7 linked regions of the Homo sapiens genome follow. The protein of the gene in region 6 purifies or fractionates together with the protein of the main gene of each other region. This does not show direct contact. Each region holds a gene or a part of one and is shown on either strand. Other genes may lie near its edges. The genes, in order: ERAP1, ATP2B1, DYM, SAAL1, TFRC, SLC27A1 and PPP6R3.

Region 1 (3,500 bases), on a different chromosome or scaffold from region 6:
TTCATATCTCTTTTCTCCATTAACTTATACATAGGAATCAGCTCATTCAAACCTTGAAACACGGGCATAATTTCAGTTTCATGTTTCAAGTACAGGGATAAATCCAAGGCCTTTTCAATGGACAGCTTCCCAATGCTGACCAAGAGACACTGTGGTTAGTGGTTTAAAAGTAAATCCGGGAAGTCAACTTTTTGCTTCAAAATATATTTTAATCTTCTAGCAAAACAAGCAATCAGATATAAATGTCCCTTATAAATAGATAACTACGGCCGGGCGCGGTGGCTCATGCCTGTAATCCCAGCACTTTAGGAGGCCAAGGCAGGTGGATCACCTGAGGTCGGGAGTTCAAGACCAGCCTGGCCAACATGGTGAAACCCCGTCTCTACTAAAAATACATAAAATAGGCAGGCATGGTGGCAGGTACTTGGTATGTGGGAGGCTGAGGCCGGAGAATCACTTGAACCCGGGAGGCAGAGGCGGTGAGCTGAGATGGCACCACTGCACTCCAGCCTGGGCGACAGAGTGAGACTCCATCTCCAAAAAATAAATAAACAAACAGATAGATAACTACTATATAAGTCTCTTTTCTATCACATATAACACAACATCCGGCATGTTTACACTAGGGAGGAAGTTTCTCAAACAGTAACGTCTAGGGCTAACGTGGATAAGCCGGAAAGGAAGCACATCAGCATCTATCCCTGTGAAACACTGGATTGAGTGGTGAACTTCTAGAGTAAGCAAGGGATTTCCATCAAAGACCCTTTAGGAAGCCTGGTCAAACAGACTATCATCTGGTCAAAACCATGAGTTCCTGGAGGAAACACATTTTCTTCTCCATTTCAAAGACACTGCATATCCTTAGAAACCCTTCATTACAGAGGGTTAGTGTTAAAAACCTCAGTGGTAGGGTATATATTATATAAGTTAAAAAATAAAAAAGAAGAAGCCCTCTAAGGCTCAAGCAGAAATATTCTACAGAGGGGAATTTTTTAGGCAGAAAGAAACAGCTAGGTAAGCAACCCATAACTTTCTCCCCCATTGCTTTTTCTCACTTCAGGAGGCCCAGTATGGTGGTGAGAAGAACCAGAAGGCACTCAAAATTTAGGCCAGAAGGATACGGGTATGAGGAGAAAGAGATAATCCTTCCCACCTGCATGCTTCCTCTTAGGACTTTAGGTCTGCCTACATGTTGAAGAAGTTTGAGTTTTAGGCTTTGGGAGCATTTCCTTAAAAACCATTGTCATGGGGGAGGAAAAAAAAAGGGTAGTGTTAATTCTGTCTTCACACACTCAGAGATCATTTGGTTGGGCTACATTTTATGAGCTATATTCCATAAAGATGCTGCAAAGTTCAGGTATCTGGTTTAGGAAAGAAAAAAAAATCCCTTCTTTAACCCAAGAAATGTAATGCAAACAACTTGGGCCTGTGTCACTTAGTCTTCTAAGAAGACTTCAAGGCTGTTATAAAGACCCAGTGGTGGGAGAAACCTGATCCGGTATAGCGGGGCCAGAAGAAGCTGCGGGACCATGCCGCGGGGACAAGGCAAGGAGTTTCGCCAGGATGTTGATCTCCTGGTTATCTACACTTCCGCCTCAGTATGATCTGAATTATTAATGAGAAAGATTAAGATACAGATTCCTTCCTTCAAGTGCCTTAGTAGTCACAGACAGGAGGTTAATTATAAGACTAAAAGCAATCTTGGGTTGTTAGAAGAACTTAAAGGAAAACACCTTTCAACTTCTTGTTATCAATCAATCATTTTTGTCTTTAGAAATCAAGAATTTGAACAATAACAGCTGCTTTCAGAAATAAACCGCGACTTTGTGCAGCGTGTATTACCTGACGAGCTGAAATGCATTGTTAATGAGACTCGCCCGATCATTACTGCTGACTGCTGTGTGTGTTCCTTTTAAAAGGCCAGTCAAAGAGTCCCATCCATCATCCTCGTAATGCACAATGTAATAGCCATTCATGCCCACATTAAATTTGATCCATTCCACCTCTTCTGGGAGGATGAGCACATCTAGAGTAAATAAAATAAATCAAAGTTCCATTTGCTCCCCTGCCTGAAGAAAGCTTTTCTCATCCAAGATTGGGCAAGGAAATTAGAGAAGAGTTTAATACTGAAAAATTTGAAAACATCACTTATTTCTCTCAGAAACCAGAAAACAGCAACTCAATAGACAAAAGCTAACACTAGCTTTAGACATCAATTTTGTGAGATTTACAGATCTATGAAAAGAATGGCAACTACATCTCTGGCCATACATATGATATAACCCAGTAATGTTAACAAAGTAATAGTGAATGTTCACTGGTAATCCCTCCTTTTTAGCATTATATAATTCAGCTATAATCTCTATCTGGCAAGATATTGGCCATTCTTCTTTGAAACCAGAAAGCATTTTCAATCTGATCCCTTTTGCTTTAACCAAGATAAATAGCAAAAGAAACAGCACTTTAATCCTACACATTTTCACATTCCTCCTTGAATTAACTAGTAGTTTCCAAAATAAATTACCTGTTTTTGTTTTTAGCAAAAATCGATGGACCATGTCGGATTTGCTGGTGATGAATGTCAATGGAACATGCCACAGGTACCTAAAATAAAGGAGAGGTGGATTGTTCATTTGTTGATTCAATTCAACAAGCAGTTATTAAATCACCTATCATGTGCCAGGCACTGGTTAGTTTAGAACAAGATAGTACCAAAACTGCTACAGCCAAGCTCTCAAAACATCCCCAGTCTGTTTTCCAGCTTTGTAGGGAGTGTCAGCTCGGGCACTATTTCCTTTTCTTGGACTCCTTGAGTAGAGCTAAGAATTTGGACTCACGTGAACCCTGAAAGCCTTTTTACAGTGATTGGCTGATTGCATCTCAGAGGCCTAACTTCAGGACTCATGTGCCTCCTGAATAGTATATTAGGAAGGACACAATATCACCTCCTTGGGATTCCTGTCAATGATATGTAAGCTGAACCTGATCATGGAGAAACAGCAGAAAATCCAAACTGAAAGGCATTCTATAAAATAACTGGCCAGTACTCTTCAAAAAATGTCAATATCGAGAAGCCCAAAAAAGACTGAAGAGTTGTTTCAGAAAAAAATGGAGACCAAAATGATGCAACAACTAAATAAAATAAGTGATCCTGTATTAAATCCTAAGTCAGAATTTATTTTCTATTTTGCTATAAGGATATTTTTAGGACAATTGGAAAAAGTTGAATGGGATTTATAGATAATAGTATTATATAAAGTTTATTTCCCAATTTTGATAATTGTACTGTGGCTATGGTTATATAACTGAATGTTCTTGTTTTTTGTTTGTTTGTTTTGAGATGGAGTTTCGCTCTTGTTGTCCAGGCTGGAGTGCAGTGGTGCGATCTCGGCTCACTGCAACCTCCACCTCCTGGGTACAAGCGATTCTCCTGCCTCACCCTCCTGAGTAGCTGGGACTACAGGCGCCCGCCACCATGCCCGGCTAATTTTTGTATTTTT
Region 2 (3,500 bases), on a different chromosome or scaffold from region 6:
GATAAGTCTTTATTAAACTAAAATTAGCCAAAAACTCTGAGATGAAAGGTGTTTTATCCCCTTACTGCTATGTGTTCTCTGTCGAACTATGGAATATGGCCCCGGGATAAAGGACATTATTTGAGCTATTAGATTGTTGCATGTAGAGTAATTATATGTTGTTATATATACTTTCATAGATTCCTTGATTTCAGAGTAAGATTTACTAATTTCCTTTGACTGACAGACATGTTAACTTCATTTCAGATGCAACAGTCTCTTACCATGGGAAATGAGTTTTAAAAGGAACGGCCACTTATAACTATTGGTCTTCTGTAATATTGAACAAAATAATATTTGGTTTTTTTCCCTTACATTTTACACATGAATACAGTAAAATTGATGTTTTCACTTTTTTATTCTGGAATTTTGTAATGGATGAGCAAAAAACAATAAAAGGACTGAGGATCAGAAAGCAGAAACAAACATTTAGGTTTTTGCATCTCGGGCAAGAGTATTGACCAGATGGAAGGGAATAATTATTTTCTAGTAGCTGTCATGATATGTAATAAAGGTACTAATAGTAGCTTATTTGGGACTAGGTGGAATCTGAGGTGACATTGCCAGGAAAATAACATACAATGGTTATGGGAATAATTTTCATAAAGATAAATAACTTTAAAAAATTCACTTTTTAGCTTTTAGAAATGTTATCTATACATACCACATATATTGTTGTCTTGTTAAAATTTTTTATTATAGAAATTATCAAACATAGGAAAGTAGAGAGAATGATATACTTACTGGCCAGTTTTGACAATTACCAACTCTCGTGGTCCATCACATTTCATTTATATCTTAACACAAGAAATGGTTCTGTTATAAATGGGGACATAGGACAGGTAATCGAATCGAATTTTTGTATTTGTATTTTTCAGAATACGGTATACTCAATAGTGTCCAATATCTAATTAAATCTGAATGGTCAGTTTTTATGTTCTTCGTTGATTCTTTAGTGGCATATACATTTTAATTTTTCTGGTGGTAGTTTGTGTATTTTACAGCAGGTGCCCAAAGATAGTGTCTCTCAAATTTTGCTGTCTTCAGAAATCACAGGTATTATTATTAACTACTTTACAGTTTTCAGAATGTATTTACATATGACCTCATTTGATTCTCACAATAATCCTGTGTGGTGAGTAAGGCAGACAATTGTACTTTTTTTTGTTTTTTGTTTTTTGTTTTTTTTCTGGTAGGCAAAGTGATTTGTCTAGGCCCTAAGGTCATATAGCTAGCAGCTTTTTTAGCCCAAACTGGACTTTAGGTGGCTTCTAGATTTTGCTCATTGCTCTTCTCATTATACACGTTTATGTAAGTTTATGAAAGTTATGTATGGAAAATCAGTTTTGATCAGAGTAAATTTAATAGAGAAATATGAATGGGTTTGTTTGGGTTGAGCTTTATAAATTTAATCATTACTTATATTTGGTGTAATACAAACAGTTTGTGTTTTGATTTACTTAACAGCTGAGTGAATGTGAACGTATCTGAAATACTATATTTTTAATATTGTGGATTTTTTTAAGTTAGGAATTTTGATTTCAAAGAACTGTTGGCCTAGGGGTGTCTTAAATCTTGAATAAAAATAAAATGTGCTGTACTAAAAGTTTCTTCTTTAAATTTCTGCTGTAACTTTTTATGCACTTGTTTTTATACTATAACATGTTTATTACCTAAATCTCTTTGAAATATTCATTTGTTCTGTAATGAAATTTAGTTTAAAAGGTTCCAAATGAGGAGGTTTTAGTTCCTGAAATCCAAAACCTGGTTATAAATCTCACAAGAAAGGTGTGGTTCTCCAGCATTAATGTGCATGAAGAATCACCTGGGGGAGTTACTGAAAGTGCAGATTCCTTGGCATTGCCCCTGGAATTTTGATTCAGCAGATTTGAGGTGGGGCCAAATGCTACAGTAGTCTGCATTTTGAGAAACATTGACATTGCATTTATAACTAAGTTAAAGTTACATGGTAGAGATACCTAAATCAGTAGCAAAGTTTGATTTGTTGATGTCGATGGTTTTTGTGACAATCCTAGAACTGATAAATTGAAAATATTTCTGTTATCTATGTATGCCCAGTCTTTCAGAAGATCCATCTGTGGTTACTTAAGTTACTTATTAAGCACTGTAAACTATTAGAGAATGTTCTTTTATTTTCATGTCTTAATGTCTGCCATTTTCAAATGACTTAGACACCAGAGTTTATATTCATAAAAATAATGCATGCTGTATCCTTACAGTAGTGTGTGTTTATCCTTTAGTCTAGCTCTTTGTTAGAAGAAAAGATCGGATATTCCTTCAGACTAAAAGGACATAAGTTAGTGGATAGATAGCTCTCTTTAATTTTAGTTAACAAGCAGTTGCTCTTTCAAAAACAGCAAGTAGATCTTCCAAGAATATTAGTGATAGCATACTAATTGATAATTTACTATTTTATGCATTAAAACAGAAGTTACTGCTGTCTCACTTAAATGTTAAATAACCGTTTGTGTAGTTCACCAATCTACTCTGACTTTTGGAACTATTTTATCTAATACCATATCCACGTGAATTACCTGCCTTTAATAATTTTCCTCTTTAAGACCAGTTTTGAAATGCAGTTGTTTTTTGCTTCATTTATAACAGTATAGCAAATAGCCTGTATCTGCATTTAAAATATATTTTATAATAAAATTAATTTCAAAGCAGGTTCATCTCAAGACTGTTGGGAACCTGTTTTTGTTTGTTCCAAAACTTAGTCTTGTTGGCTACACCTTAAGGTTTATTTAGGAATCATAGCTTGTAATTTACTAAAGCTTATGGTAATCTAAATTAATAAATATTTTTGGCAGAGAGGTCCAAATAAACTGTGGGCACATTTTTTTTTGCCATATTTTTAAAAGCTATTTTCTATTAAATTTTTCCTAGGACAGTGTCAGCTATTCCAAATCGTATGTGGTGTTTTTAGTTATAAGAATATTTGGTATTTCTAAGTACAGTGACTTCCAACAATATGGTTTCTTAAAATATGGGATACCTGCTTTTGTAGTAATACTACTGTCACCTGGGCCTCTGAGGGAACAAATAAAGGTAGTGTTGAATGGACCAATGCTTGCTTACACTGTGAAATCTGAGATTACACTGCCTAACTGTAAACTGGCATGACTACTGTACAGACCTGATAAATTTAGGAGTCAAATTTATGTTTTCTGAAAAAAATAGGTCTTAAAGAAGATTTGACTGTTTAACTTGAAAGATGCTTTTTAAATACTTTTTTATTAACAATGTGGATCTATTATTCATTGTATTAACCCTGTGAGTGAGTTCTCTCTCAGGAGGATTTTAAATAATAATCTTGTACTCTCAAAACTCTCAGATCTGCTGCTTTAATCTACCTTTCATATTTGTGCCAGAATTTTCTTTTGTTTTTCAATAACCTATTTTAAACCACAGTTTCTTCACTAAAACTTTCATCTTTTTTT
Region 3 (3,500 bases), on a different chromosome or scaffold from region 6:
GTTTTGTAGGTAATCCATTCATTATTTGCATACATTTTACATAAATCACCGCACAAAACAGAAAGATTAATATTTTAATTACTTTGTTTTCACATTGAACCAGCTGCACAAATTCAATGTAACTATTAATGGTGGCAGCCAAGCAAACAGAATTTCTTATGCCTAAATAGATAAAATTTATGTGCACCAAAGAATTGAAAAAATCTGATAAAACTTACTTGCTACTCCTGATGCAAGTCCATAAAGCAGTCCTCCCCCATCCGACTGCTGAGGGAAAACATGGGCCCCTGGAGGAGGTGGCTTTTCTTGTCTGATAAAGTTATATAATAAGGTCTTCACAAGTTTGCTGGTGTATGGAAGACTATACAAAAAGGAAAAAAAAATCAAACTCATATTTATGGGAGTCATCTAATTCTGAATAACAATACAGAAATAATTCTGCCATTAACACTATCTGTTAATACAAAAGGGCTATTGGCACAACTCACAGAAATTGAGCACTGCACACAACAGTGAAGACCATGGGCTTTGAGAGCAATTTTGAGGCTTAATCCTTGCTTTTCCTCTTATCACATCATAAGATATTGATCAAATTACTTAAATACTTTTTTTCTGCAGTGGGGAGAAACAAGGTCTGGTAGAGACAAGGTCTCACTATGTTGCCCAGGCTGGTCTCAAACTCCTAAACTCAAGCGATCCTCCCGCTTCAGCCTCCCAAAGTGCTGAGATTACAGGCGTGAGCCACCGTGCCCAGCCCACTTGAACTCTTGAACTCCAGTTACTTTATCTACATTCGGTATAACACTGTGAGCTATTATAAATTTAGTGCATAACACATTATCTGGCAATTGAAGGGAAGTAGTAATAAAGAATCAGTAGAAAAAAGCAAGAATTTAAAAATAACAATAGGACTACACTTTTTAAGTATGAAATTATTCAATTATTCAATTGGTATTAAACTAATTCCTGCAATATAGAGTAAACTTTTTAACAGATTCTTTAATGTACTATTGAGCTTTTTAAATATGGTTTCCAAGATGAACCCCAAAAATAAGTAAAGAACATATTACGGTTTAAATATGTGGCACCATAATGATACTATAAAAACCTTACTTAGAAAATAAGAACACTAACACCCTCTATGTCTATTTTTAAAAAGCAACTTGAATACTCTGGCACTATAAGGGATGAAGTTCACAATCTTGTTTCAGCAAAGATGCACACAGTCCCACGATGCCAGCACTACTTCAAACCACGGTCATTCTGAGTGTCATTCTGAGTGTCTCTGTCAGAGAGGGTTCCAATGCAAACCTCTGACTCCAAAGCCCAGATCCTTTCCCTCAGTGATTTTCAAATATGTTCAAAGAACATACATGCCACAGGAATAATCAGGGTAGCAAAAAGAATATGAAGAAGACAAAGCTCCCCACTATCTGAGAACTTTCCTCAAAGGTACTTTATTTGGATTTGTTTTACATTTTTAAAGTTTTGTGAAGATTATGTTAATAAAAGGTCAGGTATGTGCATATGTGTTGGTCATTTGCATCCACACCCTCTAGGAGATCGTAAGCTTCTGCTCAAGAGCATAGCCCCACAGTCTAACATGCCTGGCACATGGATAGCACACAGCAAATATTTGCAGGCTCAAAGAAGTAGGAATAGTCAGCGAAGAGGCTGCTGGAGAAGTCCAAAGAGAGTAAGGGGGCATAGATCACAGGTGTTTCAAAGGGACTGCTGAGAAGAGGAAGATACAAAAATAATCTGAATAACAAATATGACTTGACTGCTTAAACATAGACAGAATGAAGGAGATGGAAGAAAAAGATGATTTCAAAGTTTCAATTCTACGAAGCAACCACTGGAGAAGGTAATGAAGCTACGGGACAGGAAGAACAGGGAGGATGGGTAGATGGCACAGGAAAGTAGAATGCGGTTCCCTATGCACTGGGTTTAAAGAGACAATAGAACAACTAGAGGAAATACCTGGTTGGAGATATGGGACGATACTCAGGTAAAAGGACAAGACTAGAAATATAGATTTATACAATGAAAAAACTAGACATACTTAAAGTAGAAACATACCATGGACCTCGCATCAAATACTTGTGGCTGATGCTCTGTCGCAAAACTTCTTTGTGGAAGAGTTGGCAGGAAAGGAAAACAACCATTGTTGATATAGCTTCTACTGATATTTCATATGTAATATCTCTAAAATGGAAGAAAAACAGAGTAACAGTCACTTTGGAAGATTAAGACACTATTCTTTTCTAAATGAACTATACATTTAAAAACTCAAATCTAAATATTCAGTATTTTCAGGTTACTGAAAAATGTTAATACGTTTAATACAAAAATTAAGTCAAGCAAAAATATTAAACTCCTTCCCTGTCATTAGCTGGTGTATTTGGGTTAGTTATCCCTTTATTTCCCTATTTTCCAGTTTCCATCTCCTATTAAATGACAAGTCTATTTATGTATAATGGAAATAGTTACTAGCAGTGTTCTGTTTTGAAGATTCACTCTAGACATCTATGTTCATTTCTGTTTAGTGATAATACAGAGACAAATACTCAGATTGTAAAGCTGAAGAGAAGGTACAGTGTAGGGAAGAAAACAATGCCTTTTCATGTTGATGATCACTTTACAATCAGAACAATAATACACCCTAGATCTTGTGTCTCTAGTGCCTACCTTTCTCAAGGTCAACTTTGCATGTTCAGCAAAATATTAACAGTAAACAAGTTATTCCTGTTTTATTAAGCATATTTTGATTATGAAGGGTTACTCTGTCCTCTCAAGATCATAAACCCCTTTGGGAAACAAGTCTTAGATCAAATAAAAAGAAAAAGATTCAGCTGAACAGAAAGCACACAGAGGAATAAAGGCATCCAGAAATTTCCAGTTACTGCAAAAGTTTAAACAGGATTATAATGGGGAACATGTTAAGACCAAGGAAGTAGAAACCTCAACAACGCAGTAAAAAGAGCAATAGCACCAAAAGAATACTAAAATATTTTTATAAAAATGAAATAATTATGAAAAACAAAGAAAAATACTTAACACCTACTTAAATGAAAGCTCATTAAACAAATTAATGATGACTTGATTCTAGAACTAGAAAAATTTAAATTCTACCAGATATCTTAAGGAGTTATTACTGATAGAAATATGTTTAAAAGGCCAGGCTCAGTGGCTCACGCCTGTAATCCCAGCACTTTGGGAGGCCAAAGCGGGTGGATCACCTGAGGTCAGGAGTTTGAGACCAGCCTGGCCAACATGGTAAAACCCCATCTCTGCTAAAAATACAAAAAATTAGCTGGGCATGGTGGCGGGCACCTGTAATGCCAGCTACTAGGGAGGCTGAGGCAGGAGAATGGCTTGAACCTGGGAGGCGGAAGTTGCAGTGAGCCAAGATCGTGCCATTGCACTCCAGCCTTGGCGATAAGAGCGAAACTCCATCTCAAAAACAAAAAATAAAGAAAGAAAAAGAAATATATTTA
Region 4 (3,500 bases), on a different chromosome or scaffold from region 6:
AATCCACCATTGCTTGAAAACCATTCTAAACTCAGCCTGCTGCTTAAGACCTCTACTCTCTGAACCTAACTCATCTTTCCAGCATAAAATCTGGATAGCCAGGTAACCCTTCTGATTTAGCCAGACCTTTCTACTCCCTGTCTCATGCTGTCTCCGTGCCTCCCTTTGTGTGCCTTCTGTCCCCTCTCAGTATTTGCATCTGTTAATTCACAGTGGTACTTTTCCTTCCACACCTTCCCAAGTAAGTAAGTAAGCTTTCAGTAGTCATTGCTGTTAGTAAACTGCCAAGAACAATAGATAAAGACTAAAGGAGAGGCCTTTATATACTGTGCAGTGTACTGTGCTTTATTGCCAATTAAATTGCCATGTGCTATGCATATCATGGATTAGTAAATATCTGTTCAATAATTATAATTATGAAAAACTGCTGTTTACTGAATACCTGGTCTTACTACTATGAGGTATACTTTCAAAGAACTAAATCTTGGGTGAAGATATGTGTTCAGGGTCACACAGCTAGGAAAGAATGGAGCTGAGATTTCAGCCTAGGCCTGACTTCAGTATAACCACTGTACTGTATTTCCTCTCTTTCAGATTATAAAATGGAGAATTCCATAGTGTATTTTTACAAATTGAATGTTGAATTAGAATTCTTATTTAAGTAGAATGTTCTCTCTGAATTAGGGCCTGATTAACCGTTTTTTCCTTGATTCCTTATATTAATATAAGATTTGATGATTATGCTATTTTTATACTGAGTTTTTCTGTCTTAAATATATTTACTCACTACTAGTATATAAAGAAATAAGCTTATGTCAGGAATGGCACCTTTTAGGAATTAGTCATATTGTTGTATTATATCCGCTGGCCACCGTCTGCTGCCACAGTGATTCTCAGCCTTGGCTGCATGTTAGAATCACCTGGGACAGGGACTCTCAAACTTAAGCATGTCCCCGCATCACTAATTGCCGAGCCTCCCTCCAGAGTTTCTAGTCCAGTAGGTCCAGGATTCCTAATATGTTCCCAGGTGATGCTGGTGCTCTGGTGCATTGCCACACTCTGAGAAGCTTTACCCTAGGGAACTTTTGAAAATCTTGGTCAGGCCATACCCTAGATGAGTTAAAGCAGAATCTCCAAGTGTGAGACTCTGGGCAGCTTTTAAAGTTCCCCAGGTGATTCCAGTGAACAGCCAAGAAAAACTTGATCTTTGATTGGAAGTTCAGTTATTCCCTCTTTAGTTTATAAGGGAAATGTATGTGGTTTTTTTCTGCCCCTACTCACTCTTAATCTTTTCCCAACATTTGACCACCCACTTTTTATTGAAATTCCATTTCTATAGCTCCTGTGTCACCTCACTGTCGTCTCTGACCTCTTCAGTCACTCGTCTCTCACCTTTCATTGGCTTTTTTCTTTCTTCCTTTTTTATACTGTCCCGAATATGGACTTTTTCTAAGGTGTAGGCCCTGATCCTTTGTTCTCATTATATTCATTTTCCTAGTGAACTTATGTGTTCTTTACACCTTTAAGTTGCAACTCTGCCTGTAGGAGCAAAGCCTCGACTTCCCTTCTGATAACTGATGTCACATCTCCAACTTTGTTCAGGCATTCTCTGCTTGCACGCTCTACAGTTGTCCCTTGGTATACATGGGGGATGGTTGCAAGACATTCCCCCATACTGAAATCCACACATACTCAATTTAGCAGTCAGCTCTGTGGAACCTGTGTGTATGAAAAGTCAGCTCTGCATATTGTGCAGGTTTTGCATCTTGAGGACACTGTATTTTCAGTCCAAGTTTGGTTAGAAAAAATCCACCTATGAGTGGACCCACACATTCAAACCTGTGTTCAAGGGTCAGCTGTACTCTCTAACCCTGAATTCTGTATGTCCTCAGTGATTTATGGTCACACTTATCTAATCATAAAAGTCACCTGGTATATGCTGGGTAAACAATAGCTTTCCAGGCTCTACCCTGGAAATTATGATTCAGTAGATCTGAGATGAGATTTGGAAATCTGTATTTTTAACAAGCTCCCTGAGTGATTCTTATGTTCCAGCAAGGTTGGAAACACTGTACCATCTGAACTCATTGTAGCCTTTTATGCACTTTCTTTTTTAGTTTTCCTGTCAACGGGACCAATATCACTGATGGGGAAATGAGGCAACTTGAAAGCTAGGAGTCAAGTTCAACTGCTTTCTCCTTTATCCTCACACTGGATTATTTTGCTTTCACCTTGAGAGTCTTCCTCAGCTTCATCCTTTTCCATGCCTGAGGGCCCTCCTCCTCTTGCATCTTGATAACTGAGGTGCAGTTTGGAATAGTGGTTAAATGCTCAAGCTCTGGAGCTCTGCCGTGTTCTAGTTGGAGATCTTAAGATCTTAGGCAAGTAGCTTAACTTCTCTGTGCCTTAGTTTCCTCATCTGAAAAAATGGGGATACTATTAGTACCTATCACCTAAGTTATTATATGAAATTATACACAGAAAATGCTTAGAGTAATGCCTGGCCACCGTGAGTGGTAATAAACTGTTATTACATATTAATTAACTATTACTGAGATAGATTCTTAAGTTCTTTTCAACTTCTTTTCCCTATACACTAGTCTCCCCTTATCCTTGGGGGTTGCATTCCAAGGCCCCCAATGCCTAAAACCGAGGATAGTACTGAACCCTATTTATAATATGCACAAATTTCCTTTTCCTTCTTCACAGTTTCATGGATAGATTTGTTCTTAGAGATCCTAAGCAACCTCAGCATACATTTTTGTTTGTTTTTCTTATGAAGTCAAGAACTTTTACCTTTTCATGTAAAGAAAGCACTTAATGGCGGCTCCTTGGCATATCCAAATTGCCAGCATCACTACTCTTGTGCTTTGGGGTCATTATTAAGTAAAATAAGGGTGACATGAACACAAGCCCTGTGAGATATCCCGATGGTCGATCTGATAGCCAAGATGGCTACTAAGTAACTAATGGGCAGGCAGCACATACAGTGTGGATATGTTGAACAAAAGAATGATTCACATCCTGGGTGAGACGGTGCAAGATTTCATCGTGCTGCTCAGAAAGGCATGCAATTTAAAACATGAATTGTTTATTTCTAGAATTTTCTATTTAGTACTTTTATACCAAGGTTGACCATGGGTAACTGAAACCATGGATAAAGAGGGACTACACTAATACATTATGCATTTCGCCACCAGAGTAATCTTCCTAAGATACTGTTTCAGTATGTTGTCTCCCCTCCTTGAGCATCTTCATGATTCCAAATAACTTCCCAGATTAAGTCTAATTCTTCAGCACGGCATTCAGAGCCCTTAATCTCAGTCCTTTATACCTGCAGTATTTACCTCATGCTGTTCACCCACTTTGTGCCACAACCAGAGTACTTTATTGTCTACAGTATTCGCCATGTACATGATTCCCTTCCTGCCTTTGCTGATACTTTCCCCTTATTTGAATGTCTGTCTTTTTGTTTGCATATCTCATTCCTATCAATCATT
Region 5 (3,500 bases), on a different chromosome or scaffold from region 6:
GTGATTCTCCTACCTCAGCCTCCTGAGTAGCTGGGATTACAGGTACTCGCCACCACACCCGGCTAATTTTGGTATTTTTAGTAGAGACGGGGTTTCACCATGTTGGCCAGGCTGGTCTCGAACTCCTGACCTCAGGTGATCCGCCTGCCTTGGCCTCCCAAGTGCTGGGATTACAGGCGTGCACCACTGCGCCCAGCCCAAAAAGCCCAGTTTTTAGACCAACACTCCCATTTCTGACTCAAAGGTCTGGGGTAGACATGACAGTTTGCATTCGTAACAGTTCCTAATGCTACTCATCTGGGGGCCACACTGAGAACTACCCACTGTTCTAGACAAGCAATTGTGCTCACTGTGTAACTTGACAGACTATTTAAAGGAAGGTTAAGATACAGGCTGAGGGCAATGGCTCATGCCTGTAACCGCAGCATTTTGGGCAGCTGACATAGAATGCTTGAACTCAGGAGTTTGACACCAGCCTGGGCAACATGGCAAAACCCCATCTCTACAAAAAAAATTAGCCAGGTGGCTGAAGTGGGAGGATCACCTGAGCCCAGGAGGTCAAGGCTGCAGTGAGCCAAGATTGTGCCACTGCACTCTAGCCTGGGCAATACAGTGAGACCCTGTCTCAAAAAAAAAAAAAAGCTTTCTTCCACTTCAAAGTAGTTTATCTGGCCAGGCACAGTGGCCCACATCTGTAATCCCAGGCCGAGGCAGGCAGATCGCCTGAGGTCAGGAGTTCGAGACCATCCTGGCCAACATAGTGAAGCCCTGTCTCTACTAAAAATACAAAAAATTAGCTGGGTGTGGTAGTGAGCACCTGTAATCCCAGCTACTCAGGAGGCTAAGGCAGGAGAATCGCTTGAATCTGGGAGACAGAGGTTGCAGTGAGCCGAGATCGTGCCATTGCACTCCAGCCTGGGCGACAAGAGCAAAACTCCATCTCAAAAAAGTTTACCTGAATTCATACACAGCTAATGAAAGGGATACTTACCAAGAACCGCTTTATCCAGATTAATATAAGTGAAAGCCTTTAAATGCAGGGACGAAAGGTATCCCTAGAAGAGAAGGGAAAACACTAATAAGTATAAATCTGTTTATTTATCACATACAGTAGCATTAGGGATTCATTTTCAATTCTGGACTCTACTGAGACTAAACGCAAAGGCAAAAGTGGTAAAATCAAACCTATAAAAACATCACTTCTGGACAACAGCCTAAGCCCACAAGCTCGTGTCCAATATGGGAAGGGATGATAAAGAATACCTCTAGCCATTCAGTGGCACCAACCGATCCAAAGTCTCCAGCACTCCAACTGGCAAAGATAATGCTTCTGCTGGGCTGAAACCCATCTGAAAGAGAAAAAAGTTAGCTTTACCTGAGGAAAGGTTATACACAGACAAGGATGGAAGGTATCCCACTTAAGATGAATCAGAAGGTCTAATTCCAAGATAGCAGATTCCAAAATCTTTTTTTTCTGAGCCAAAAAAGAAAAAAAAAACTAACAAAATCTTTTTTTGAGACCCCAGGTAAAAGAATAAAAGAATAGGAATAATTTTTTTTAAAGTAACCTACAAAGAGCAAGATAGGAGATCTGCAAATAAGATTTTGAGTACATAGCAGGGGCCAGTAGTCACCCTTTCACAATTTCATTCTTGGAGTTCCTTAACTTCTGGACCCAGAGATCATTGAAAACAGTGTAAGCATGATGATGCACATCTTGAGAAAAATCTTCAGAGGTAAATCCAAACATTGGATTTTTAAAAAAATAATTCTAAAATAAAATAAAAATTCACAAATTTAAGTTACAAGAAGAGTTTGCAGAGAAACTATATTTGTGACAGCACCTTTTGAGGTTACATGTATCACACTGCCCTCCATCCCTCCCACTTCCCTCACTGTATCTTTTTCTCCATTAATGTACTCTGTATTAAAGTTAAGCATTGCAGTTTGCCCTAAGACCCAAAGATTCAAGAATGTGACGTGATTTTGAATGTGTGGGTGGGTAGGAGTGTGAAAGAGTGGAAAGTAGGACAGAAAGGCTCAAAAATAAACAAAAGAGGCAGGGCACGGTGGCTCACTAGCAGCATTTTGGGAGGCTGAGGCGGGTGAATCACTTGAGGTCAGGAGACTAGCCTGGCCAACATGGCGAAACCCTGTCTCTAGTAAAAATACAAAAATTGGCCGGGTGTGGTTGTGGGTGCCTGTAATCCCAGCTACTCAGGAGGCTGAGGCAGGAGAATTGCTTGAAGTCGGGAGGCAGAGGTTGCAGTGAGCTAAGTGAGATCACACCACTGCACTCCAGCCTGGGCAACAGAGTGAAACTCTGTCTCAAAAAATGAATAAATGAATAAACAGAACAAAATTTCAATAGCTGTTAGGCCTCAGTACATGAGTAGAGAGGTATGCTACTGCTTTCAAATAGATTGCTTAGGGACTATGATCCACCTTATCACTCTGGATCCACCACACTAAGCACTAGGGCTCAGTAACTCCACTGTCTCAAAGAAACTGGTGATTTCTAGCACAGTTAAGACACTTTATGGAAAGCTGTTTCAAAGGAAAAGGCAGCTACAACAAAAGACAATCTGCCTTGTATTTAAGAACTAGAGTCTAGCATGAGAACCACAGGAATGCAGGCAAAGTGAGCAAAGCACAGTATAACATCTAGAACTGTATGCAGTGCACCAATATTCAAAAGAATCAAAATTTGTACTCTACCTTTTAAGACCATATCTGAGAACATCTGGGCAAGTTTCAATAGGAGAGCTGTGCCTACACCGGATTTTGCAGCTCCAGGGCCCCATGCATCTCTCTGGGCCCCAACTACAACATAGTGATCTTTAAAAAAGAAAAAAGAGGAAGAAAGAACTTATATAATCAGCTTCTAAACTTTTCTAGAATTAGCACATCAGTAGAAAGGTAAAAGCACAGTATATGTATTAAGGATAAAAGAGCCTTACTTCAAATCTGACTAAAAACTCTGGGAATTAAAAATTCACATGAGAATATTAATTTTACCTTACTAGTAGAGCTACTTTTTTCCTACACTACTAATTAAATTTACTGACTACTTAAGTCCAAGGACTTATTTCTTAGTAAGTGTTGGCTGTTTGATTGCATTTAAAGTTAACTCCAGGGACTGGCAAACTACAGCCCGCATGCCCATTCACTACGCACAGTCTGTGCCTGTTTTCTTGCTCCCACAGAGTTGAACAGCTAAAAGAGAGACTGTATAGCCTGGCAAAAGGTTTATTATCTGCCCCCTTAAGAAATTTGCTTATCACTGGTCTAGTCAATAACTTAGAATAGATTTTCTAGTCATAATGGTCAATTTTTAACAAGAATTTCCTAGGGCCTTATTACCTCCCAATAAAACTGACACATAGGCTGGGCGCGGTGGCTCATGCCTGTAATCCCAGCACTTTGGGAGGCTGAGGGAGGCAGATCACCTGAGGTCAGGAGCTCTGACCTCATGGAGCCTGACCAACATGGAGAAACCC
Region 6 (3,500 bases):
CCCCGGCCAGGTATTCTTTTAGAGCAACACAAAATGGACCAAGACATGAATCAACAGACACACTGATGGATGAAGAGAGAGATTGGAGTGGGGGAGACTCGCACCTGTGGTGTCCACCTGGGGCAGGAGGCGCAGGAAGATGGGCCGGGCATAGGGTGCCAGCACCTTCTGCAGCTCCTGGTATATCGCGTTGGGGTCCAGCAGGCTGTGGGGGTCTGCGACGGCCGCCATCCCTGCCTTACCCTCCACTCCTGGAGGCAGAGGCTCAGCTGAGGACACCCCGCCTCTCATCCTCCCCACCAGCAGGACCAGATACACTGTCAAGCAGTAGCCCCTGGTCTGTAATCTCCAGTCTCTCCCAACCTGGGATGACATTTATGGAAGCAGCCACACATTTTGTGGAGCTCCTGCTTGGCTCATTGAAGCCCTAAGACAGGTGGGCTTTCATGATCCCATTTTCTGGATGACAAAACTGAGGCTCAACATCACCCAGGTGAACTGGCTCCAGATCCAGTGCTTCCTCCTGGGCTGCCATGAGCAGTTGTCCAGGTTGTGCACTGCCCAAAGGCATGTGTACTTCTAAGCCCCTTTTGGCTGAGCTCCCTCAGGACCATGCCTCAGGACCACCCCCTGCAACCCCAGCTTGCCTGGAACAGCCACCCCATAGACGGCCACGTCTGTCTGGCCCAGCAGGCGGCTCAGCACGCCCTCCACCTCGGTGGTGGAGACGTTCTCCCCTCGCCAGCGGAAGGTGTCCCCGCTACGGTCCCGGAAGTACATGTAGCCCAGCTCATCCATCACTAGCACGTCACCTGGCAGAGGGGAGAGGGGCAGATGGGTGGAGGATCCCCATCCGCACAGCCAGTCACCGGGGCCTAGCAGGCTGCGCACCTGAGAGGTAGGCGCTGTCGCCCTTGCTGAAGACGCTGTGGGCGATCTTCTTGCTGGTGGCGCTCTCGCTGACATAGCCATCGAAGCGGCGCAGCGGGTCCTGTTGGTTGATCTGACCCACAAGGAGGCCAGGCTCCCCTAGGGAGAAGGCCATGTTCAGGCTGCGCTAGGCAGGCAGGGCGTGGGGACCCCTGCTCCGGGTGGGGACCATGCGGGGGCCCTGCTCACCGGCCTGGCAGGGGATGCAGAGGCCCTGGGCATCCCGCAGCAGCTCCATTGTGTCCTCATTGACCTTCACCAGCCGGATGGGGTACACGTGGGGCAGGATGCGGCTGTTGAAACCACAGGAGCCGACCTGGAATGGGGTGAACTGAGTTGGAAGGAGCCGGGGATATGCGGGGTCCTTCTCAGTAACACTTTGCCTGCCTTGCCCTGGGGCTTGGACCTAGCACCTCCAGTGTCATTCTAAGCTCTGTGACCTTGGCTGATCTGCAAAAGCAGGGTAGTAAGCGTCGCCTCCAACTCAGGGCCCCTCCTCCCACCTTCCCAGCCTGCATTCAGTCAAGAGAAGACCTCTGGCTGGCACCCACTTCCTGATCCACAAAACCCTCCATGCTGGCAGGAAGTAGATGCCTCTGTGTGGACACTACAGCTACGTCAGACACTGCAGAGCTTCACCTGCTGCCCGCCGCCCTGCTTGGCATGGTTCTATGAACAGAAATGCTTCTCCAACATGTTTGAGCCACTACACCCTGTCTGGTGTGTTTCTTTCTGCTTTTCCCCCTTCCTCCGTTCCTCCCTTCCTTCCTTCCTTCCTTTTTTTATAGAGTCTTACTCTGTCGCCTAGGCTGGAATGCAGTGGCGCAATCTTCGCTCACTGTAACCTCTGCCTCCCACGTTCAAGTGGTTCTTATGCCTCAGCCTCCTGAGTCTGGGATTACAGGCGCATGCCACTGAGCCCAAACAATTTTTTTTTTTTTTGTATTTTTAGTAGAGATGGGGTTTTGCCATGTTGGCCAGACTGGTCTCGAACTCGTGACCTCAAGTGATCCACCCACCTCAGCCTCCCAAAGTGCTGGGATTACAGGCGTGTGTGGGTGGCAAGCTACCCAGGTGCCGAGGCAAGAGACCGAGGGCACGAGCCATTCCAGTATAATAAAATATATAAAACAACAAGAGTTATACTAGATCTAGATCATAGACATGATTATATATGAATATCATTAGTCATCAGTTTGTAGCAATTACTCTTTATTCCAGTATTATAATAATCCTCGCTCTGTAATCATAACCTAGAAAAAACCGGGCCATAGAGAGATAGGAGCTGAGGGGACACAGTGAGTAGTGACCAGAAGACAAGAGTGCGAGCCTTCTGTTATGCCCGGACAGGGCCACCAGAGGGTTCCTTGGTCTAGCGGTGACGCCAGCGTCTGGGAAGTCTAGTCTAGCGGTAGCCTTAGTGTCAAGGAAAAACACCTGCTACTTAGTGGACCGGGAAAGGGAGTCTCCCTTTCCCCCGGGGAGTTTAGAGAAGACTCTACTCCTCCACCTCTTGTGGAGGGCCTGACATCAGTCAGGCTTGCCCACAGTTATCCGGAGGCCTAACCGTCTCCCTGTGATGCTGTGCTTCAGTGGTCATGCTCCTAGTCCGCCTTCATGTTCCATCCTGTACACCTGGCTCTGCCTTCTAGATAACAGTAGCAAAATTAGTGAAAGTACTAAAAGTCTCTGATATGCAGAAATAATGGCATAAGCTGTCTTTCTCTCTCTCTCCCTCTCTCTGCCTCTGCCTCGGCTGCCAGGCAGGGAAGGGCCCCCTGTCCAGTGGACGCATGACCCACGTGACCTTACCTATCATTGGAGATGACTCACACTCTTTACCCTGCCCCTTTTGCTTTGTATCCAGTAAATAACAGTGCAGCCAGACATTCGGGGCCTCTACCGGTCTCCGCCTCTTGGTGGTAGTGGTCCCCCGGGCCCAGCTGTCTTTTCTTTCATCTCTTTGTCTTGTGTCTTTATTTCTACAATCTCTCGTCTCCGCACACAGGGAGAAAAACCCACCGACCCTGTGGGGCTGGACCCTACAGGCGTGAGCCACCGTGCCTGGCCTGGTGTGTTTCCTATGCAAGAATCTGAGCTACAGTGAGCAAAAGTGCCCTGGGGGCTGGCCATCCAACACCAAGCACACTGAGGAAGGAGCATTGTTCTTGGCATTAAGGACCCAGCCCCCATGGCACTTGCTGTTTTTTTTTTTCCTTTTTAGAGACACAGAGTCTCACTCTGTTGCCCAGGCTGGAGTCCAGTGGTGTAATCATAGCTCACTGCAGCCTCGATCTCGTGAGCTCACGTGATCCTCCCGCCTCAGCCTCCTTAGTAGCATTGACTACAGGCACCTGCCACCATGCCTGGCTAATTTTTTATTTTCTGTAGAAAAGGGGGTCTCACTACATTGGCTATGCTGGTCTCAAACTCCTGGGCTCAAGTGATCCTCCTGCCTCAGCCTCCCAAAGTGTTAGGATTACAGGTGTGAGCCACTGTGCCCAGCCGACATTTGCTTTATGATCATTATTACGGTCTGTTCTTGGCCTTGGATGGGAGGGGCTTGGGAA
Region 7 (3,500 bases), on a different chromosome or scaffold from region 6:
AGTACAAAATCAGAGCCTCCTTATATCTGTAAAAAGATGTTCAGAACCTATCGAACTTTAATTGCATAAGTTCAGTCAACTGTATAGTCTTCACTAATGCATCTAAAACAGGTCAACTCTAGCCAGCCGTAAGTGACAATTAGTAAATAGCCTCTACTCAGGGTAAAGCCAGCTCTTTGCCCAGTCTGTGACATGACAATGTCCTAGCTAGGGCCGGGTGCAGCGGCTCACGCCTGTAATCCCAGCACTTTGGGAGGCCAAGGCGGGCGGCTCACTAAGAGATCGAGACCATCCTGGCTAACACGGTGAAACCCCGTCTCTACTAAAAATACAAAAAATGGCCAGGCGCGGTGGCTCACGCCTGTAATCCCAGCACTTTGGGAGGCCAAGGCGGGCGGATCACAAGGTCAGGAGATGGAGACCATCCTGGCTAACACGGAGAAACCCCATCTCTATAAAAATACAAAAAAAATTAGCCGGGCGTGGTGGCAGGCACCTGTAGTCCCAGCTACTCGGGAGGCTGAGGCAGGAGAATGGTGTGAACCTGGGAGGCGGAGCTTGCAGTGAGCCGAGATAGCGCCACTGCACTCCAGCCCGGGCGACAGTGTGAGACTCCGTCTCAAAATAAATAAATAAATACAAAAAATTAGCCGGGCATGGTGGCCGGCCCCTGTAGTCCCAGCTACTGGGGAGGCTGAGGCAGGAGAATGGCGTGAACCCGGGAGGCAGAGCTGGCAGTGAGCCGAGACCACGCCACTGCACTCCAGCCTGGGTGACAGAGCGAGACTCCGTCTCAACAAAAAAAAAAAAAAAAAAAAGAAAATGTCCTAGCTAGGCATAGAGATAAGATACCTTTCCACATACTGTCAAATGCCCTTTTACTTGCTTCTTTACCACGTAGCCAACCTACCTGGTATCCAAATGTCAGTCTGTAATCTTTCAATACCTGAAATAAACTGAGTATTGATCTAACTAGCAACTATCTCCCTCCTCATAAAACTAAAGGGGGTGAGAAGTAGGAAAGGGGGCTTCCATGACAAATAAATCTAAGCCAAAGTCAAAAGGCCAAAACAAAATCTCCAGTCAACCTAGATCCATAATGCAGCAGGAGAAACACCCCCTCCCACTTGAAGTAGCATCTATTTCAAGAATGCCGGAAACATTTTGCAAAAACCTACAGCAAGCTTCGGACGGGTCTGGAACCAGAGAGTCAGTGTCTGAGGTTTGGTCAAAGGATAACTGTTGTGTAGGGAGCTATAAACAGCTATCTGTCATTACAAAACGGCTTCAGTATGGGAAGAATGGCACTGCTTTTTAAGACTCCTCAAACTAAGGAGGCAAGTCGAAGTAATCATTTCTTATAAATGAGTAACAAAGTGTAACTATCTTATTCTTTTGCAAAACTTCTGGCAATCTCAACCACCCAAAGTTTAAACAAATCAACCAACTGACCAGCAAACAGAAGCTCTTTCCTCCCAGGCCCCATTGACACCATGTACAATTCTTAACAGCTTTGTCGTCTCTTGTTTGCCTCTTCCTCTAGACTGCAGGTCCTTAAGGGCCTGTTCATCAGTGAATCCCTAATACAGTTCCTAGCAGAGTAAGGACTCAATTAATGTATTTGCTGATGAAATAAATGGATATTAGAAGTAGATGGTGGTCACTGGTAGTTCTCAACATAGGCACAGGCCGAATTTCAGGATGAAGAATAAGAAAATGCCTCCATGACCTTTTGTAACTTCAGATATTAACATTTAGCTGCTAAAAATTTATAGTTTTCCTAATATTCTTCCATTCCATAAACTAGATAATCTAAATTTTAATATGAGCAAAAAAGATCTACCCTTCTCTCTACCACTGCATCTCATCTCCCCAGGAGAAAAGAACACTTCTCTGCTGGGATCAGAGTCTAGGGCACAGAAGAGTCCAACTTACCAGTGGGCAGGATCACTGTGTTAAAGGCTGAGCATACTGTATGCCTATCTGTGCCCTCAATGGGCAGAACTGGTAAACTGATCCAGGGCTAATTCTCTGGGAATAGGTCTTTATTAAAACAAAAACAAAAACAAAAAACAGGCATGGTGGCTCACGCCTGTAATCCCAGCACTTTGGGAGGCCGAGGCGGGCGGATCACTTGAGGTCAGGAGATCGGGACCAGCCTGGCCCACATGGTGAAACCCCATCTCTACTAAAAATACAAAAATGAGCCAGGTGTGGTGGCACGCACCTGTAATCCTAGCTACTCAGGAGGCTAAGGCAGGAGAATCACTTGAACCCAGGAGGCGGAGGTTGCAGTGAGCCAAGATCATGCCACTGCACTCCAGCCTGGGTGACATAGTGAGACTGTCTCCGAAAAAAAAAAAAAAAAGTTGAAGCTGGCATCTAAAACCAGACCTGACCACTGACTGACAAAAGGAGGGCAAAAGATACTAACTCAAAAATTACAGTAGTGTAAGATTATTCAGCACAGAAGCAAACTCTAAATATCTAAGAATTTTGCTTAGTTTCAGCACAGTATGGTAATGTATTTTCATGAGGTTAAGAAAAAAAAGTCCTAAGATATTTTATAAAATCAATTAACAAATGCTTCTAAAGTTCAGTCTTCAGGCATCTGAAAAATGGTTAAGTATACCATCTAAATAATCCCCACTACTAAATAATCTCCAAGGCAGGATCTAGGTACTGCAAAGACCAAGTTCACAGATCACCGAAAGGAACCCTTAACTCACAAACAGTCCCTAAACCTGTGGTGTAAAACAGTGGTTCCAAAATTCAGCTGCATTTCAGTATTGTCTGAGAAGCTTCTAAAAAATAGATTCTCGTGGCCGGGCATGGTAGCTCACACCTGTAATCCCAGCACTTTGGGAGGCCGAGGCGGGTAGATCACGAGGTCAGGAGTTCAAGACCACCCTGGCCAAGATGTGAAACTCCATCTCTACTAAAAATACAAAAAACAGCCGGGCATGGTGGCGGGTGCCTGTAATCCCCGCCACTAGGGAGGCTGAGGCAGAGAACTGCTTGAACCCAGGAGGCAGAGGTTGCAGTGAGCCGAGATGGCACCACCACACTCCAGCCTGGGCGACAGAGCTAGACTCATCTCAAAAAAAATTAATAAGATTCTCAATCCCACCATTTCCAGAGGTGGAGTCCAACATCCATGGTCTTAAAAAATTTCTAATTATTCTAATGCAGGCTTATTCTAATGTAGGCCAGTCTCACATCTATCTAAGTGCAGGATTTCTCAACCTCAGCAGTGTTGCTATTTGGGACTGGATACTTTTGCTGGCGGGCAGGGAGGAGGCTATGCTGGACACTGTAGGATGTTTAGCAGTATCCTTGGCCTCTACCCTCCAGAAGCACACTGCCCACTCCCAGAGGTGTAACAAGCAAAAATATGTCCAGACACTGCCAAATGTTTCCTGGGGGGTGAGGGGGGAACCACCCCCAACTGAGAACTCTTGAACTAGAGTAAATCAAAAGACAATCATTTGAAGTTAAGA

Evidence for each region.
Region 1: the proteins of SLC27A1 (region 6) and ERAP1 purify together in Homo sapiens (affinity purification with mass spectrometry; one large-scale study listed by BioGRID and IntAct). This does not show direct contact.
Region 2: the proteins of SLC27A1 (region 6) and ATP2B1 purify together in Homo sapiens (affinity purification with mass spectrometry; one large-scale study listed by BioGRID and IntAct). This does not show direct contact.
Region 3: the proteins of SLC27A1 (region 6) and DYM purify together in Homo sapiens (affinity purification with mass spectrometry; one large-scale study listed by BioGRID and IntAct). This does not show direct contact.
Region 4: the proteins of SLC27A1 (region 6) and SAAL1 purify together in Homo sapiens (co-immunoprecipitation; 2 studies listed by BioGRID and IntAct, with this or other methods). This does not show direct contact.
Region 5: the proteins of SLC27A1 (region 6) and TFRC purify together in Homo sapiens (affinity purification with mass spectrometry; one large-scale study listed by BioGRID and IntAct). This does not show direct contact.
Region 7: the proteins of SLC27A1 (region 6) and PPP6R3 purify together in Homo sapiens (affinity purification with mass spectrometry; one large-scale study listed by BioGRID and IntAct). This does not show direct contact.

Annotation. Positions count from the first base shown.
Region 1 is NC_000005.10:96,783,946-96,787,445, forward strand, and holds part of ERAP1 (endoplasmic reticulum aminopeptidase 1 isoform b precursor), read right to left. Parts: intron 3,162-3,500; exon of another isoform or gene 2,605-3,161; coding exon 2,525-2,604; exon of another isoform or gene 2,027-2,524; coding exon 1,843-2,026; exon of another isoform or gene 1,440-1,842; intron 1,124-1,439; exon of another isoform or gene 136-1,123; coding exon 1-135. UniProt on the Homo sapiens protein: Aminopeptidase that plays a central role in peptide trimming, a step required for the generation of most HLA class I-binding peptides.
Region 2 is NC_000012.12:89,702,339-89,705,838, reverse strand, and holds part of ATP2B1 (plasma membrane calcium-transporting ATPase 1), read left to right. Parts: intron 1-3,500. UniProt on the Homo sapiens protein: Catalyzes the hydrolysis of ATP coupled with the transport of calcium from the cytoplasm to the extracellular space thereby maintaining intracellular calcium homeostasis.
Region 3 is NC_000018.10:49,331,646-49,335,145, forward strand, and holds part of DYM (dymeclin), read right to left. Parts: intron 2,209-3,500; coding exon 2,083-2,208; intron 362-2,082; coding exon 219-361; intron 1-218. UniProt on the Homo sapiens protein: Necessary for correct organization of Golgi apparatus. Involved in bone development.
Region 4 is NC_000011.10:18,092,583-18,096,082, reverse strand, and holds part of SAAL1 (protein SAAL1), read left to right. Parts: intron 1-3,500. UniProt on the Homo sapiens protein: Plays a role in promoting the proliferation of synovial fibroblasts in response to pro-inflammatory stimuli.
Region 5 is NC_000003.12:196,061,591-196,065,090, forward strand, and holds part of TFRC (transferrin receptor protein 1), read right to left. Parts: intron 2,839-3,500; coding exon 2,719-2,838; intron 1,350-2,718; coding exon 1,264-1,349; intron 1,056-1,263; coding exon 992-1,055; intron 1-991. UniProt on the Homo sapiens protein: Cellular uptake of iron occurs via receptor-mediated endocytosis of ligand-occupied transferrin receptor into specialized endosomes. Endosomal acidification leads to iron release.
Region 6 is NC_000019.10:17,498,024-17,501,523, reverse strand, and holds part of SLC27A1 (long-chain fatty acid transport protein 1), read right to left. Parts: intron 1,247-3,500; coding exon 1,120-1,246; intron 1,030-1,119; coding exon 892-1,029; intron 813-891; coding exon 648-812; intron 252-647; coding exon 105-251; intron 1-104. UniProt on the Homo sapiens protein: Mediates the import of long-chain fatty acids (LCFA) into the cell by facilitating their transport at the plasma membrane.
Region 7 is NC_000011.10:68,463,752-68,467,251, reverse strand, and holds part of PPP6R3 (serine/threonine-protein phosphatase 6 regulatory subunit 3), read right to left. Parts: intron 1-3,500.